Linked DNA regions of Homo sapiens: region 1 is linked to region 2. A link means that fine-mapping ties the variant in region 2 to the expression of a gene that starts in the linked region. Tissue or cell type: whole blood. Region 2 holds a variant in brackets; the other region holds the start of a gene. Each region is shown on its reference strand, or each on the opposite one.

The links. PIP is the estimated chance that this variant, and not a neighbour inherited with it, causes the effect.
Region 1: TMEM88 starts here. The variant in region 2 is the best candidate, but not a certain one, in a credible set for the expression of TMEM88 in whole blood (TOPMed, PIP 0.73).

Annotation. Positions count from the first base shown.
Region 1 is chr17:7,851,164-7,859,258 of GRCh38, forward strand. It overlaps TMEM88 (transmembrane protein 88), which reads left to right and starts at 3,903. Exons shown (of 2, transcript NM_203411.2): 1 at 3,903-4,121; 2 at 4,282-4,936. The coding sequence starts at 3,912. The coding sequence ends at 4,551. KDM6B (lysine demethylase 6B) reads left to right here. Exons shown (of 24, transcript NM_001348716.2): 15 at 1-63; 16 at 167-231; 17 at 315-386; 18 at 485-633; 19 at 788-902; 20 at 986-1,173; 21 at 1,332-1,473; 22 at 1,837-1,963; 23 at 2,047-2,217; 24 at 2,335-3,633. The coding sequence ends at 2,358. It overlaps NAA38 (N-alpha-acetyltransferase 38, NatC auxiliary subunit), which reads right to left and starts at 6,396. Exons shown (of 3, transcript NM_001320925.4): 1 at 6,220-6,396; 2 at 5,852-6,035; 3 at 5,522-5,680. The coding sequence starts at 6,300. The coding sequence ends at 5,568. It overlaps CYB5D1 (cytochrome b5 domain containing 1), which reads left to right and starts at 6,840. Exons shown (of 4, transcript NM_144607.6): 1 at 6,840-7,131; 2 at 7,240-7,316; 3 at 7,443-7,661. The coding sequence starts at 6,972. It also overlaps LOC107987244. RefSeq lists enhancers at 1-660, 382-491, 548-842, 661-1,624, 822-1,051 and 8 more.
Region 2 is chr3:152,239,687-152,248,213 of GRCh38, forward strand. It overlaps a transcript of MBNL1 not described here. Among named protein-coding and RNA genes, the nearest start is that of MBNL1, 25 kb to the right of the region's middle. RefSeq lists enhancers at 3,820-3,879, 4,010-4,139. The variant T/G (reference allele first, on the strand shown) is at 3,461.

The DNA.
Region 1 (8,095 bases), not on the chromosome of region 2:
TCCCACACCACCATTGCCAAGTACGCACAGTACCAGGCCTCATCCTTCCAGGAGTCTCTGCAGGTGAGATGAGAACGTGGCCAGAGGCAGGTCCTGGGACGGGGCTGCGGTGGGAGGGCTCTCGAAAGGTCTCTGACCCAGGCCTGCCTACCCTCTGGCTGAACAGGAGGAGAAGGAGAGTGAGGATGAGGAGTCAGAGGAGCCAGACAGCACCACTGGAACCCCTCCTAGGTACTGTGCAGGTGTGCCCCTTCTGTTCCTGCTTCCTTCCCCTCCCTCTGCTCTCCACCAACCTGTGCTCTTCGCCCCAGCAGCAGCGCACCAGACCCGAAGAACCATCACATCATCAAGTTTGGCACCAACATCGACTTGTCTGATGCTAAGCGGTCAGTGGGGCTGAGGCCAGGGAAGTTGGGGCAGGAGTGCTGCTAGGACCTCGTGGCGGGGGCGGGGTGTAGCCTCTCGTCGCACTTCCGCACCGCAGGTGGAAGCCCCAGCTGCAGGAGCTGCTGAAGCTGCCCGCCTTCATGCGGGTAACATCCACGGGCAACATGCTGAGCCACGTGGGCCACACCATCCTGGGCATGAACACGGTGCAGCTGTACATGAAGGTGCCCGGCAGCCGAACGCCAGGTGCGCTCCACGCCTGTGCGCGCTGATGCTGGAAGCGCGAGAGGAGGGGCTGGCGGCGGCGCTCAGCCGTCAGCCAATGAGGGCAGAGGGCGGGGCTATCGGGGATCGCAGTTCCGACCTGGCCAGCCATGCCGTTCTCTGTCGACCCCTGCAGGCCACCAGGAGAATAACAACTTCTGCTCCGTCAACATCAACATTGGCCCAGGCGACTGCGAGTGGTTCGCGGTGCACGAGCACTACTGGGAGACCATCAGCGCTTTCTGTGATCGGTGCGTGCCGTCCTGCGCAAGTCAGACTGCCGCGTCCCCGCCCTCGGTCCCCAGTTCCCACCTGACCTGTGGCCACCCCGCAGGCACGGCGTGGACTACTTGACGGGTTCCTGGTGGCCAATCCTGGATGATCTCTATGCATCCAATATTCCTGTGTACCGCTTCGTGCAGCGACCCGGAGACCTCGTGTGGATTAATGCGGGGACTGTGCACTGGGTGCAGGCCACCGGCTGGTGCAACAACATTGCCTGGAACGTGGGGCCCCTCACCGGTGAGAGGGTGGGGCAGGTGTTGGCGTGGTGTGGCGCCTCAGCGGCAAGGGCCTGGGAGGCTGGGGCTTGGAGAGCCGCCAGCAGTGAGGGAAGGGGCTTGGGCCTAGGTGTCTGGGGGCTGTTTGAGAGTCCTGTTGTGATCGCCTTTGGCCCGCAGCCTATCAGTACCAGCTGGCCCTGGAACGATACGAGTGGAATGAGGTGAAGAACGTCAAATCCATCGTGCCCATGATTCACGTGTCATGGAACGTGGCTCGCACGGTCAAAATCAGCGACCCCGACTTGTTCAAGATGATCAAGTGAGGACCCTATTTGGGTGGGAGCCCACCTCCACTGACTGGTCCCTTTTCTTGTTCTTCCTGTCTGACTCCACCCCATTTTTACCTCTCTCCATCCTTGTCTGCCTGTGCCCCGAGTGTTACTGTGTTGGGGAGGCTAACTAGGTCCTTGCTGTCATGACCTTTTCTAGTGGTCCAAATAGACAAAAGCCACAGGAAACTTCGCCTATAACAGATGCCCAGGACAGAGGATGTGACCTAGACATGAAGCGGGGAGGCCCCTAGGGGAGGGCCCTGGGGCTGCCCACCCCTCTGCCCTTGCTCCAGCCCTGCCTCAGGCCTCCTCCTTGCCGGTGGTCTCAACACAACCCCACTGCTCCCCAGGTTCTGCCTGCTGCAGTCCATGAAGCACTGCCAGGTGCAACGCGAGAGCCTGGTGCGGGCAGGGAAGAAAATCGCTTACCAGGGCCGTGTCAAGGACGAGCCAGCCTACTACTGCAACGAGTGCGATGTGAGTGGGCCGGCTCTGCTGCTCTCCCTGAGTGTCCACAGTGGCCCTCCCTCCCCCTGACTGCACTGTCCTCCCTGCCCCAGGTGGAGGTGTTTAACATCCTGTTCGTGACAAGTGAGAATGGCAGCCGCAACACGTACCTGGTACACTGCGAGGGCTGTGCCCGGCGCCGCAGCGCAGGCCTGCAGGGCGTGGTGGTGCTGGAGCAGTACCGCACTGAGGAGCTGGCTCAGGCCTACGACGCCTTCACGCTGGTGAGGGCCCGGCGGGCGCGCGGGCAGCGGAGGAGGGCACTGGGGCAGGCTGCAGGGACGGGCTTCGGGAGCCCGGCCGCGCCTTTCCCTGAGCCCCCGCCGGCTTTCTCCCCCCAGGCCCCAGCCAGCACGTCGCGATGAGGCCGGACGCCCCGCCCGCCTGCCTGCCCGCGCAAGGCGCCGCGGGGCCACCAGCACATGCCTGGGCTGGACCTAGGTCCCGCCTGTGGCCGAGAAGGGGGTCGGGCCCAGCCCTTCCACCCCATTGGCAGCTCCCCTCACTTAATTTATTAAGAAAAACTTTTTTTTTTTTTTTAGCAAATATGAGGAAAAAAGGAAAAAAAATGGGAGACGGGGGAGGGGGCTGGCAGCCCCTCGCCCACCAGCGCCTCCCCTCACCGACTTTGGCCTTTTTAGCAACAGACACAAGGACCAGGCTCCGGCGGCGGCGGGGGTCACATACGGGTTCCCTCACCCTGCCAGCCGCCCGCCCGCCCGGCGCAGATGCACGCGGCTCGTGTATGTACATAGACGTTACGGCAGCCGAGGTTTTTAATGAGATTCTTTCTATGGGCTTTACCCCTCCCCCGGAACCTCCTTTTTTACTTCCAATGCTAGCTGTGACCCCTGTACATGTCTCTTTATTCACTTGGTTATGATTTGTATTTTTTGTTCTTTTCTTGTTTTTTTGTTTTTAATTTATAACAGTCCCACTCACCTCTATTTATTCATTTTTGGGAAAACCCGACCTCCCACACCCCCAAGCCATCCTGCCCGCCCCTCCAGGGACCGCCCGTCGCCGGGCTCTCCCCGCGCCCCAGTGTGTGTCCGGGCCCGGCCCGACCGTCTCCACCCGTCCGCCCGCGGCTCCAGCCGGGTTCTCATGGTGCTCAAACCCGCTCCCCTCCCCTACGTCCTGCACTTTCTCGGACCAGTCCCCCCACTCCCGACCCGACCCCAGCCCCACCTGAGGGTGAGCAACTCCTGTACTGTAGGGGAAGAAGTGGGAACTGAAATGGTATTTTGTAAAAAAAATAAATAAAATAAAAAAATTAAAGGTTTTAAAGAAAGAACTATGAGGAAAAGGAACCCCGTCCTTCCCAGCCCCGGCCAACTTTAAAAAACACAGACCTTCACCCCCACCCCCTTTTCTTTTTAAGTGTGAAACAACCCAGGGCCAGGGCCTCACTGGGGCAGGGACACCCCGGGGTGAGTTTCTCTGGGGCTTTATTTTCGTTTTGTTGGTTGTTTTTTCTCCACGCTGGGGCTGCGGAGGGGTGGGGGGTTTACAGTCCCGCACCCTCGCACTGCACTGTCTCTCTGCCCCAGGGGCAGAGGGGTCTTCCCAACCCTACCCCTATTTTCGGTGATTTTTGTGTGAGAATATTAATATTAAAAATAAACGGAGAAAAAAAATCCTGTTTCGCTAACGGCTGGTGGTAGCAGGTTGAGTACCGGGAGGGCTGCAAGACCGTGATTGATGGGGAGGACTGCGCAGACCCTGGCGAGGGTGAGCCCCTCCCCGGAGGCGCCTGTGGAATGTCCAGGGCTCTGGTCCGCTCCTCGGGATGGGGGGTGCCTAATCCTAGAGCCGCATTCCAGGATAAGGGGGGTGGGGAGAGGCTGGGCCGGGGGAGGGGCAGGAAAGAGGGCTATAAGGGCAGCGGCCCAGGCGGGCGGGATCCAGGCGGGCCATGGCGGATGTCCCCGGGGCACAGCGAGCGGTTCCTGGTGACGGCCCAGAGCCCCGGGACCCCCTGGACTGTTGGGCCTGCGCTGTTCTTGTAACAGCCCAGAATCTGCTGGTGGCTGCCTTCAATCTTCTCCTGCTGGTGCTGGTGCTAGGGACCATCTTGCTACCCGCTGTCACCATGCTGGGCTTCGGCTTCCTCTGCCACTCTCAGGTGAGCGTGCGCCCCGGGGTGTGCGTGTGAGTGTGAGTGTTGGTGTGTGGTGATGCTGGCGGTGGGGTCTATGGGCCACAACTTCAACCCGCCTGGGCTGTTTCCACCCCGTGCACAGTATCGCCTGGTCGGCTTGGGCCTGACGCCTCTTCTCCCACAGTTCCTGCGCTCCCAGGCACCCCCTTGCACCGCGCACCTGCGGGACCCCGGTTTCACGGCCCTACTGGTCACCGGATTCCTGCTCCTCGTGCCGCTGCTCGTGCTTGCTCTGGCCAGCTACCGCCGCCTCTGCCTGCGCCTCCGCCTAGCCGATTGCCTCGTGCCCTACAGCCGAGCCCTTTATCGGCGTCGGCGCGCCCCGCAGCCGCGGCAAATCCGGGCCTCACCAGGGTCCCAGGCCGTTCCCACATCAGGAAAGGTCTGGGTCTAATGACCCTCGAGTCAAGAACAACCCTGACGGCTGCCCTCCCTCTTATTCGGCCCAAGGACTTGAAGCCCGGCATCTTCCGACCTGCCCTGCCCCCACCCCTGCCTGAGCGGAGTCCTAGCATCCCCTTGGGAGCAGCAGCGTCAGTGGACCCAGTGCTGAGAAAAGCCCCCACATCCCGGAAAACCCACTTTCCTTTCACGACCCACATCTCAATCCTGAACATCTAGGCTGGAACCTGCACACCTCCCCCTCAGCTCCGTCGTGAATGGGACAACAATCTCGTGCCCTCGTTTTATGGTGCAGCTTCTCTAGTATTTCTGGGGCTGGGGGGCGGGGCTGGAGGGGAAGGAGTGTCCACGCATCAATAAAGATTTAACGAACTGAACGCGCTCTGCGAACAGAGGCGTGGCACAAGTACTATCACCCCTGCCCTGTGCCGAGGAACAGGAAACATGTGCCAGGGCTACAAATGAGCAGAGAGGAGCATCCTTGAGCCCCCTGGCCTTATCGCTTTTGTCCGTTCTTCCTGGCCAGACCTCAGAGATCTGTTCCTGACCCCAGGCACCTCCCCCTCAATAGAGTGGAGGGGCCCAGCCTCGGCCGCCTGCCGCTGCTCCCCTTGGGGACCTGAGCCCGTTCTCTGACCCCAGCTTAGAGGAACTCGGTGTTGCCAGGCCGGGGTGGGAAACAATGGGCCTTCCGGAGCAGGATGACACCCCCTCCCGCCACAATTCTGGAGCAGCAGCCGTGGGAGGGAAGATGCAGGGGCCCACCCTGGGGCCTGTTGGTCCGTCATTCAGCCCTGCCCCCCATCTCTACCCCTGAACTTGAGAGAACCTTTGGCACCCCTGGACATCTTGGTTGGGAGAGGAGGGTTGAGGGTGCTCCCGACTTCAGATGAGCCCTTTCCTCTAGGGATGGGGTGTGCTATCCTGCACCGGCATCCCAGCTACACACAGACACAGGCCCATTCGGTCATAAGTTTAATGAAGTCTGAAAGGTAAGCGCCATCGTGGTCAGAGATACGGAGGCCCGGTCAGACTCTCCCTCTGCACCTCAATGGAAACGATGTGGTGTCCGGGTACCATGGCCAGGCCCAGCACACGGGGCTCCCCGGCAGAGAAGGAATCTGGAAAGAAGGATCAGAGCATCAGGAAAGTAGGCCAGAATCAGTCCCGCCCCTCTGAGCCACGAAAACGAGCCCCAGAAAACAAGGGTTGCAGCCAGGCCCTTAAGGGGAAATGCCTTGCGTAAGGTTCCGCCACATTACCAGGCGGGTGTGCATTCCCCGGGCACTGACCCGACGGCTTGAGGAACTCCTGCGCCGAGCCCAGGATGACATTGCAGTCACGGTCAGTGCAGAGGAAGCAGCCGACCAGTGTCCGTCCATCTGTCATGCGAATGCGCATAGTCTTGTTGAGCAGCGCCTCTAGCTGCTGTCGGGCGCGCTCAGCCGCCGAGTCCTCGCGCTCTCCGTCCGAATCCTGCGCGGGGTGTAACAAGCGCTCAGACCGCGCAGCCCAGGCTGCCCGCCCGCGGAACCACAGCTCCCGGCAGCCCGCGGGGCACTCACACAAAGCCCAGAGGCTGCCGGGAGCTGCAGTTCCCCACCCCCTCCATCTTGCTGCTTGACTGCCCCTCAGTCCCAGAACCAGAGCCCGTGCTAACCCCAGCACTGGAGCTGCTCTGACGCCGACTGCAACAGCCATTCTCTTCTCGTAGCAGCATGGTCGGTCCAGCTCCGGCCATTTGCCCGGAGGCCTCCTCTGGGCCTTTCAACTTCCTAAGCACCTTTCAGGTTGGGTGGTCCGAGATCTCGCGAGCGCTCCCGACCTCTTTCCTTTCGCGAGATCCCCTCTCCTCCCCCTCCTAGTCTCCTCGGCAACGGCACAGATCTCGCGAGCTTCTCCTACTTCTCTAGCGCTGTGGCTCACTGAAGCGTACTACGCCGGATGTCTTAAGATATCGCGAGACCTTTACCTCTGGTTTCTTACACATCCTTTAGAAACTGGAATTTAGCGAGAATACATTCTTTCATACTGCCTCCTCCCTTGTTTTTCTGTCTCAGAGAGATAGTCTGTCCTAAATATCCCATGTAGCCCAGGCCACTGAATTAAAACGGAGCGTATTCGTTCTCTGCCCCACCCCGCAACTCCTGAAAGCGGCGCAACTCAATTACTTGATCCTTATATGCCCCACGCGGGACTCATACTACGTTTCCCGTGAACACGTGCAGTCCAAACCCCGCCCCTGATATTTATCTCAGTGGACGGTGGCCGGAAAAGGACAATGGTTTCCATGTCAGCGGATAAACGCTCTCCCCTCGGCTCCCGGACGCGACGGAGGTCGTAGTAGTAGTGAGTACGTGCTGAGGAGCAAAGGAGTAACCAAGAGATCCAGTGACCGACAGAGCAAGAGCCATGCCGCGCCGGGGCCTGGTGGCTGGGCCAGACTTGGAGTATTTTCAGCGTCGCTATTTCACGCCGGCGGAGGTGGCCCAACATAACAGGCCCGAAGACCTCTGGGTATCTTACCTGGGACGCGTGTACGACCTAACGTCATTGGCACAGGAATACAAGGGTAAGGGCCACACGTTGGGCCGGGGCCGGAGTGTGTGTGTGTGCACGCGCGCGTTTGCCTGGTTCTCGAAGGGCTGGCATTGACAGTGGCTGTGCTGCTCTTTTCAAGGGAACCTGCTGCTGAAACCCATCGTGGAAGTTGCAGGCCAGGATATCAGCCACTGGTTTGATCCAAAGACCAGAGACGTGAGTTATGCTGGAACCTGGGATTGTGGGTAGAGGAAATGGAGAGCGGGGATGGGAAGGAAAGGCGGAGGCTAGCCAGAGCCTAATGGCTGCTCTGACACCCTCGCCCCAAACCCTCCTTTAAAGATCCGCAAGCACATAGATCCGCTGACCGGCTGCCTGAGGTACTGCACCCCGCGGGGCCGCTTTGTGCACGTTCCGCCTCAGCTGCCCTGTTCGGACTGGGCCAACGATTTTGGGAAGCCCTGGTGGCAGGGGTCGTATTATGAGGTGGGGCGGCTGTCTGCCAAGACCCGGAGCATCCGCATCATTAACACGCTCACGTCGCAGGAGCACACACTGGAGGTGAGAACTGGTGACAAGGAGCAGGTTAGAAGGAATGGGGAATCCCAGCAAATCTCCAGGCCGATCTTCAGGGCAACATTTTTTCCATAACCGGTGGGAGTGTATTTTCTGTCCTTTACATTGAGGCAACTGAGGAAAGCACAGCACCTAGGTCCCCAGGGTTGGGAATTCTAGGAGTGTCTGGGTCACAGGGGGACAAGAGACTCCTTTATAAGCCTGGGAACAGCAGTTCATGTATCTTAGTGATGGTGGTCCTTCGAAGCTCTTACACGCCGTTTTGGACAGCAATTGGACTTTCTTTTTAATCTACTCTGTTGCATGGATATAGTGAGGGGACAGTTGACCCTTTATGGCCATCCGGTAGTTAGAAGTGGCTGCCATTAAGATCTGTAGGACTTTAGGGTCTGCTCATTGCATGCTGGAGTTTCAGCTTT
Region 2 (8,527 bases):
TGCTTGGCACATAGAAGAAACTAACAATGTGTTGACTGAGTTTATTCCAAATGCTAGTAATAACTCAATAGCAATAAGCACTACTAAGGTTTAGATGGTGATCTCAAAAATCCCTGTCTACCAAAAGCAACGAAGGTTCTTTAGAGAAATGGGTGATTTCAGTTCTGGGGCAAGAAATACACAAAATGAACCTGGCTATCTTGTGCCAGAAATCAAAGACATTATCAGAGAATATTAGGGTCATCTCAAGAGGTTACCATAGCCAGCATGAAAAGCCCTAAAATGGAGGATGGGGAGAATGGACCATCACCAAAAAAGAAAAATTATTGCAATGCATTCAAACAGAATGTACTTATAATCCTACATATCAATAAAAAGCTGACAATTATGCAATAAAGAAATGTTTGGTCCTGGTAGTAGGTGATCAGGTAAAAAAAATAATAATGAGATAAAATAAAAAGAAAAGTTTGGAATGAATTAACAGGTAGTTCACAAAACTGGAATTGTAAAGGAGGATACAACATTAATATGTGTTCAATATCCACAGTAATCAGGGAAAAGCAAAATAAAAATATTAAGACTCCATTTTCTTGTCCATCAGATTGGCAAATCTTTAAAAGTTTAATTAAAGCAAATACTGGCAATCGCATAAAAAAACAGGAAATGTTGGAGATTAAACCTTTTTTGACTGGGCCATTTGGCAGTGACAATTAACATTTTAAATGTATATGCCTTCTGACCTAACAATTCTACTTTCCTGTATCTACCTCACATAAAGACTTGTACTACTTTTAGAGAGATATTTAAAATGCTCAACTGATCACATTATTTTTAGCTGTGAAGAGTAACACAAATTCAATCAGTGAGGGAATTAGATATATATGAATCAGTTCAAAAGTATGTCTTGGGATACCTTCAAGCCATATTAAGCTTTTTAAAAGTCCCAGTGAAGAACATACAGTGTGATGTTATTTACATTAAAACCCCACAAAATTATTTAACTCCTTATGTGTCTTACAGGTAATTATACAGGAAATAGTTAAGCAAGTATACACATCAAACTGATAGTATTACTTATTTCTAGGGAGAAGAATCATGTTAGAGGGAATTAAAATGGACTTTTGCTTTAACTGTATTTTTAATACTATAAACATAAGAAAGTGTTTAAGTAGTCTTTGTTTTATACTTCCAGTAACCGTATTAGGTGGTCATTTAAGGCCCCATTTACAGGTGAGGAAATAGGGCTCAAAAATGTTGCCTGACCTGCTGAAGTTTAAACAATAGTAGAATTGAAAAATTAATTGAGGCTTATCTTAGGGCCTCTATGCAGACTCTTTTCTGTACATTGCAAGTAGAAATGATTTTATATTTTGCATTGGTGAAAACTTTTCTAGGGAGATAACTGGGTTGGAAACAGAGATTTGGGAGCAATCAGTATTTGCCAGTTAAAACCATGCAAGGATAGTGAGATTGTCGGGTAAGGAGAGCAAGCCCAGGACAGAATCCTGAGAAGTGGCAACATTTACTAGAGGAGCAGAGTTTAAAGACTCATAAATAAATCAGAGAAGTTGCCACATAATCAGAAGGTGAGAGTGAAGTCAAGAGCTGAAAGACAGATAACATTTCCTGGAGGAGGAAGTGGTCAACATTGGCATGTGCTGAAAACAGGTCAAGTAAGAGGGCTTTTGGATTTTGGATTTGGTAACAGGGAGATCACTGGTGATTTTGGCAAGAGTCTTGATAAATAGGAGGAAGCAGAAACCCATGCAGGAGGAAGAAATGTGAGAAAGATAGGTGGACTTAGTATGGTGGGTCCTCAAAAAGTATAAAATTACAGTATGATTCAATTCCACTTCTGGGTGTATATACAAAAAAAATGAAAGCAAAGATTCAAACAGATATTTGCACACCCATGTTTATAGCAGCATTATTCTCAATAGCCAAAGATAGCAACAACTCAAGTGTCCATCATCTGATAAATAGGAAACAAATGTGGTATATACATACAATAGAATATTATTCAGCTTTAAGAAGGAAGGAAATTCTGACACATGCTGCAACTTTGATGAACCTAAGTGAAATAAGCCAGACACAAATGGACAAATGTCATATGGTTCCATTCATATGAAGTACCTAGAGTAATCACATTCATAGAGATAGAAAGTAGAATGGTGGTTGCCAGGTTGAGGGCAGGAAGGAACGTTCAGTTATTGTTTAATAGGTACAGAGTTTCAGTCTAGAAGAATGAGAAAGTTCTGGAGATAGATGGTGGTGATGGTTGCCTAACAGTGTGAATGTACTTAATGCCTCTGAACTGTACATTTAAAAATGGTTCAAATGGTAAATTTTGTTAAATATATTCTACCATACACACATACAAAAAAGATATAAGGGCTCAAGTCAATGTGGGCAACTTTCTCAAAAAGTTCTGATGAAGAAAAAGAAAGTAATATGACAAGTCAGTCAGAGGAGGAATTTTTAATAGGGAAGAAACTTGAGCATATTTATCAGCCTGGAAGGGATCATTAGAGAAGAAGAGAAGTAGAGATATACATCCACTATTCAGGCAAAAGGTACACAAATATTGAGGAAATACATTAAAATTACAGCAGACATTGAGGACTATGCTTCCAGAGTGTGACTGGGTCTTTGGGGACTGATAAGCCTAGTGTTTTATATAATGATACCCAAATACAATAATATTTAAAATTTGTCTAAACACATAGAATCTAAGCAATTTTAATCACATTGACAACTTCTCTGTAGGGATTTCCTTATAAGTAGTTCACAAAGGAATTCAAATAAAATTTGATATCAATGACATACTGGGGTTTTGTTCGTTTATTTGTTTTTGTTTTTTGTGCGTTTTATGGAGGGGACAGCTTTCTGCATTTGGTTTATTTAACTTCCTGCAAACTCACATTAAGTATGAGTTTAGGTGAAATGGAAAATATTTCAGCTTCTAATCATCTCCTAATTACTCTGTTTGTTTGTTTTTGAGACGGAGTCTCACCCTATGGCCGAGGCTGGAGTGCAGTGGCAGGATCCCGGCTCACTGCAAACTCTGCCTCTCAGGTTCAAGGGATTCTCCTGCCTCAGCCTCCTGAGTAGCTGGGATTACAGGGGCCTGCCAAAGTGCCTGGCTAATTTTTGTATTTTTTTTAGTAGAGATGGGGTTTCACCATGTTGGCCAGGCTGATCTCGAACTCCTGACCTCAAGTGATCCACCCACCTCGGCCTCCCAAAGTGCTGGGATTACAGGCGTGAGCCACTGTGCCCAGTCTAAGTACTCTTTAATGCCTCTTTGGACATAAGGTTAAATAAAAAGCAAAGAGTGTGGTGCAGTGACAGCATGATAGCTTCTAAAGTCCAGAAAGTGGTTCTTGCAACATGTGGAGGTTTGCATAATTACTGTATTGCTCTTGCAATCCATCTCCTTCTTCCCCAATGAGCAAGGGAG[T/G]TTGGGAGCAACTGCCACACATAAAAAATGAAGCTACACATTGGCTTCTATTATCTGGCAACCTAAACCCATGATAAATATATTTGTATATATCCTTTTATTTGAATTTGGCAGTAGTACTTGCTTTGATCAACTTTTTTATGTCTTTTTTCAACCATTGTCCCTACTGTCCTTTAAATATTCTCATTTACTACTCCAACCTGTAAGAAACTTAGCCAGCTAAATGTTCAGTTTTGCAGGATCTGCACCTCTGCACCTGTTTTTTACTCTTGTGGCTGAAGTAGTGAAAGACCATAGTTCATGTGTAAGTAACAGTTTCAGTTTTGCAGTGCTTTATCTATATGTAACAGGCAACTATTCATGAGAAAGGAAGTTTGAGACTTGTAGGTAAAAAACCGCTACCCAAATTCCAGGAAAATGTCTGTTTACTGGAGGTTTTTTTTTTTTCTTCCTTTAATAAGATGCCTGTAGTCAGATTAGCATTTGTGTCATACTTCAAAGACTTTAAATTAATTAGACTTGTAAAAGCAAGTTAATTCCCATATATCAGCTGGACAGTTTTCTTCTGCATAGAGCAATGTTTTCTGTGATCATTGAGCCACACAGGAGATGCTTCCTTATGTAAACGAGCACTACTTAATCAAGTATAGGTTTCTTTTCTTTTCTTTTCTTTTTTGAAATGGAGTCTCACTGTGTCTCCCAGCCTGGAAAGCAATGGCCGCGATCTCAGCTCACTGCAACCTCCGCCTCCTGAGTTCAAGCGATTCTCCTGCCTCAGTCTCCTGAGTAAGTGGGATTCAGACGCCTGCCACCATGCCAGGCTAACTTTTGTATTTTTAGTAGAGACGGAGTTTCACTATGTTGGCCAGGCTGGTCTTGAACTCCTGACCTCAGGTAATCTGCCCGCTTCAGCCTCCCAAAGTGCTGGGATTACAGGCGTCAGCCACCGTGCCAGGCCAACTATAGGTTTCAATAGCTTAACTTTTCTAAAATTTGCTTACACATATAAACATGCATATACTTTAATTATATATGTGTACAGGCACCAATTATAGCCTGTTGCTGTGATTTCAAGTGTAAGCTTTATGAATAATTTTCCATGCCCCATAAAATGGATAAAGCATAATGACTGTTATTTCATAACTTCCTCTTTTGGTGGACTATCCTTTTGCAGAGGAAAAAAAATAATGTAACTAGAGAAGAGAGTTGAGCAGAGAACTGAGCTCTTTGAAGTGCTGGTAGTTTGTCTCAACCCATGAAGCAGCTTAACAAGCAACTATAACTAAGCATAGAGGTAAGAACAATTATTTGCTATTTTTCATTTTATTATTTGGATTGCTATTTATATAGCAACAATTTAAATGCTGGCCACATTACAGTGTAGATTAGATAAACCTGATAACTCTTTCAAGTAAGTAACCGACATTTTAAATAAAAAGTTTAATACATTTACAAAGCTTCAGCTTCACATACAAGCTTTTAAAAACCTGGAAAAATTTAAAGTTTTCATTGATCTCCAAATTATTTTACCTGCAAAATAAAACGTTATCTTTCTTGTGTATTTGTAATTTTGCACACAATTTAGTGCTGAAGAGGCATTTGGATTATTAACAAATTTGATAACTTTTCTTCTTTCCCAGCTCTAGATTATTTCTAATATTCTCTCACAGATATACTTTTGTTCATTTTGCATATTATTAGTTGAGCACTTTCCAGAAAAAAAAGCATTCTTACATTTGTTTTTACCCACCGTGAAAATATATTGTATCATTTAAAATATGACATTTCAGTATTATTTTTATATCATCACTTTATGATGATATTTGTTTAGAAAAATTAATTTGTAGTGTAGACAGCATGACTTAAAATTTTAAATGAAATATGCAAATCTAATTTTTAAAATGTATTGTTTTCTAAATAAGTTTAATTTGTATTTATAATGCTTAAAATATAGTAAGAATGAAAACAAAGTAAGACATTTGGTTTGATAATTGGAAATCAAACTAAACTGAAACTGATCTTATTAGTGAAATTCTAAAATAATCTAGATCCTAGAAACTTTTATTCAAATTTGCACTAATCCAGAATAATACCTACACATATTAACTGTATTTAATACAATTGTATTCATAATATAGCAATTTTTAAATCTTCCTTTTAAAAGCTGTTGGTTTCTTTATACTTTGGTAAAAACATTAAGGAGTGTTTAATACAGCTTTGAGAAGAAAAATCTGTTTAAGTGAACTACTCTGGCTATATATACATATGGAGGTTTGAAGAGTTTGCCTCTGAGCATTTTCATAATTGAATCCTTTTGAGAAAGTTTCATACATCACACATTTACCGTGTGAGATTTGGTAAGTATAAATATCCCAAGATGTATTTGAAGCTTTCTTAATTTGGTTTGAAAAAATTAGACTAATCTCATGGCTTCCAAAAAAGAAAGTCCACACTATCCCATCAATTAATAGATTTAATTTTTGATAAATTTTGGTAAATGGTGCTGTTATTACTGGTTCTAGTATGTTACCTAGTACCTAGTTGGTTTTTTGTTGGTTTGTTTTACGTATTTTCATGCACTACACCAATAAGTTGCACCAATAGTTGCTGTCTTCTTATTATAGGGAGAAGGAAAGCAGAGTGTTACTGTTACAAACTCAGATGTGAATTGTTGAATCAAATTTGACATACTTAACTCGATGAAAATTTTAAAATTAAGTTGATGGTTGTTAGAAATCCGTTACAATTGTGCTTCTTCATCTTTATCACACACTAATTAAACACAACTGCTTGTCAGGTCTAGGGGCTCAAGCCTGTAGTCCCAGCTACTTTGGAGGCTGAGGCAAGAGAATGGCTTAAGTCAGAAGATCAAGGCTGCAGTGAGCTGTGATTGCACCACTACACTCCAGCCTAAGTGACAGAGCCAGATTCTGTCTCTAAAAATATAAAAATAAAGAAACCTTAAAAATAAACACAACTACTTCCATCAGAAGTTCAAATGTCCACAATTTTAACTATGAGATATTTTGATATCATGAGCTATTAAGTGTTATATGTAGTATGGTAATATACTAAATAATGGCTAACAATCACAAGGAAACATAGCCCAAGGAGATTACAATATAAATTGGTCATAAGTGTAATTCAGAACAGCAAATGAAGGCTAAAGCAGCAGAGAAGATACTATCTTTCTGGCAAGACAGATTTGTTGTTGTTGTTGTTGTTGTCAATAATTAGTAAAGTCTGAATGAACATCCTAGTTCTAGATTATGGAAAATAAGTTTTTAAGTTGTTCTCTCTTTGATAAAATTGTCTTTACATAAGAAAAAAATGAGTGCTCATCTGAGTTTCCATGATAATATTAATGGTAAATAAATATTAACAAATATTTAATATTAATTATTTAATATTATTGTTTATTCATCATAAATATGATAAATAATTTATTACTGGAAAATTTAATTTTGGCTTCTGAGCTGTAGTATATATTTTACTGTGTTTTAGTAGATTATGTTTATGTGACATGATTGTCTAAGAAGTTTTCATTGAATCTAATAAAAATTGAGACTGGATGACTGCTGTGTATAGTATTGTAAAATTTGGTCTCTGTCTTAATAAGGCATAGTTTGATTGTGTGAAGTGGATGATCTTCTTGGGGGTCTATTAAACTATTGGGTCCAGGGTTGATGCTGCTAATCTCACAGTTAAATGGATGTTCTCCTCCTCCTTCACAAGATGACCTTCCCAAAGTTGCTCATCTATAGAAATAGAAAAGAATGATCTGCTTATAGAGGGCTCTATCCCACTCCAACAAATAAACGTATATTATTTTTCAAATAATAATTACATTTAGGAATAACAGTGCTATTTGTTTTTGACATAAATTACTGAACTTCCAAAAGAACATTGAAAGATTTAGTTTTTGTTTAGCTGTTTTGTTTCCTCTTCTTTTGGCCATTTTCCCATTTGCAAGAATAAAGAGAAGAAAGTTTGTTGCCTGAAAGAAAGATTACAGTTTGGGTGCAAACTCAGAGACATGACCTGTTATTGAAAAACAAAAATCTTTGTATCCCAGATAATGTGGGTCTTTCAGCCATTTAAAAGAAAATTTGTGCCCTCCTGTGTTTGTTGACTTTCTATTTATTTTTAATAAATGTAAATTCCAAATGATTGCTATATTTGCATATTCACATATAATTAAAATATGCTAAATAAATAAGAAATTATTATGATTGCAAAAATATGAGCTATGACAGTACATGAGCTCTGTATGATAAAATATGTATCATTTTCATGATACATGAAAAGAAAATACCTTTTACAGATATAAAGAATAAGGGTAAGCCATTTTATATTTCTGAATACTTCCATTTAAAAAAATAAATGAAATGGAATCTAATTTACATATCTGCATTGTAGAAAATAAAACCACTGTTCATTAATTTTTAATCTTTAAAATATAACTTGTTATTTGAGAATTAGTATAGTTCTGTTATTTGTCTGACATCATTGATGCTTTTTATCATTTTTTATTAACTAAAATTAGGCACTTAGATTTAATGTTTTTAAAATTCCTTCCAGTTTTATTTTTATCTTTATATACATTTTCTAAATATAGGTTTTAACTTTTTATTTAATTTTTTTGCTTTTAATATTATGGGGGAAAATACCAGATTTGCATATTTAAATCCAAATTTAAATAAAAATGTCATTAGAATCATTCATTAATATTGCAACCTTGGAAAGCAGATGAAGAATGAAGTTAGTCTATTGGTGTTGCTCCATGAACCAGTATAAAATTTCATACCTCATTATTATTCTACTTTACAGATATTTCATCATGAGCCTTTAGTTTTTTTTTAATATGTAGTGGTTATCACATTCTCAAAATTTTTCTCACCTTGGGAAAAAATAAATTGCAATATGATTTTGAGAAAAATCACCACAGTTTTGATTTTGAAAAAATAAGTAAAATTTTTAAAAGTGTACCTTAATTCAATCTATTTTCTTTTGCACAAGAAAAAATTTTAAGTAGGTTGCTTTTATTCTCGTTCTATGTGGGTGAAT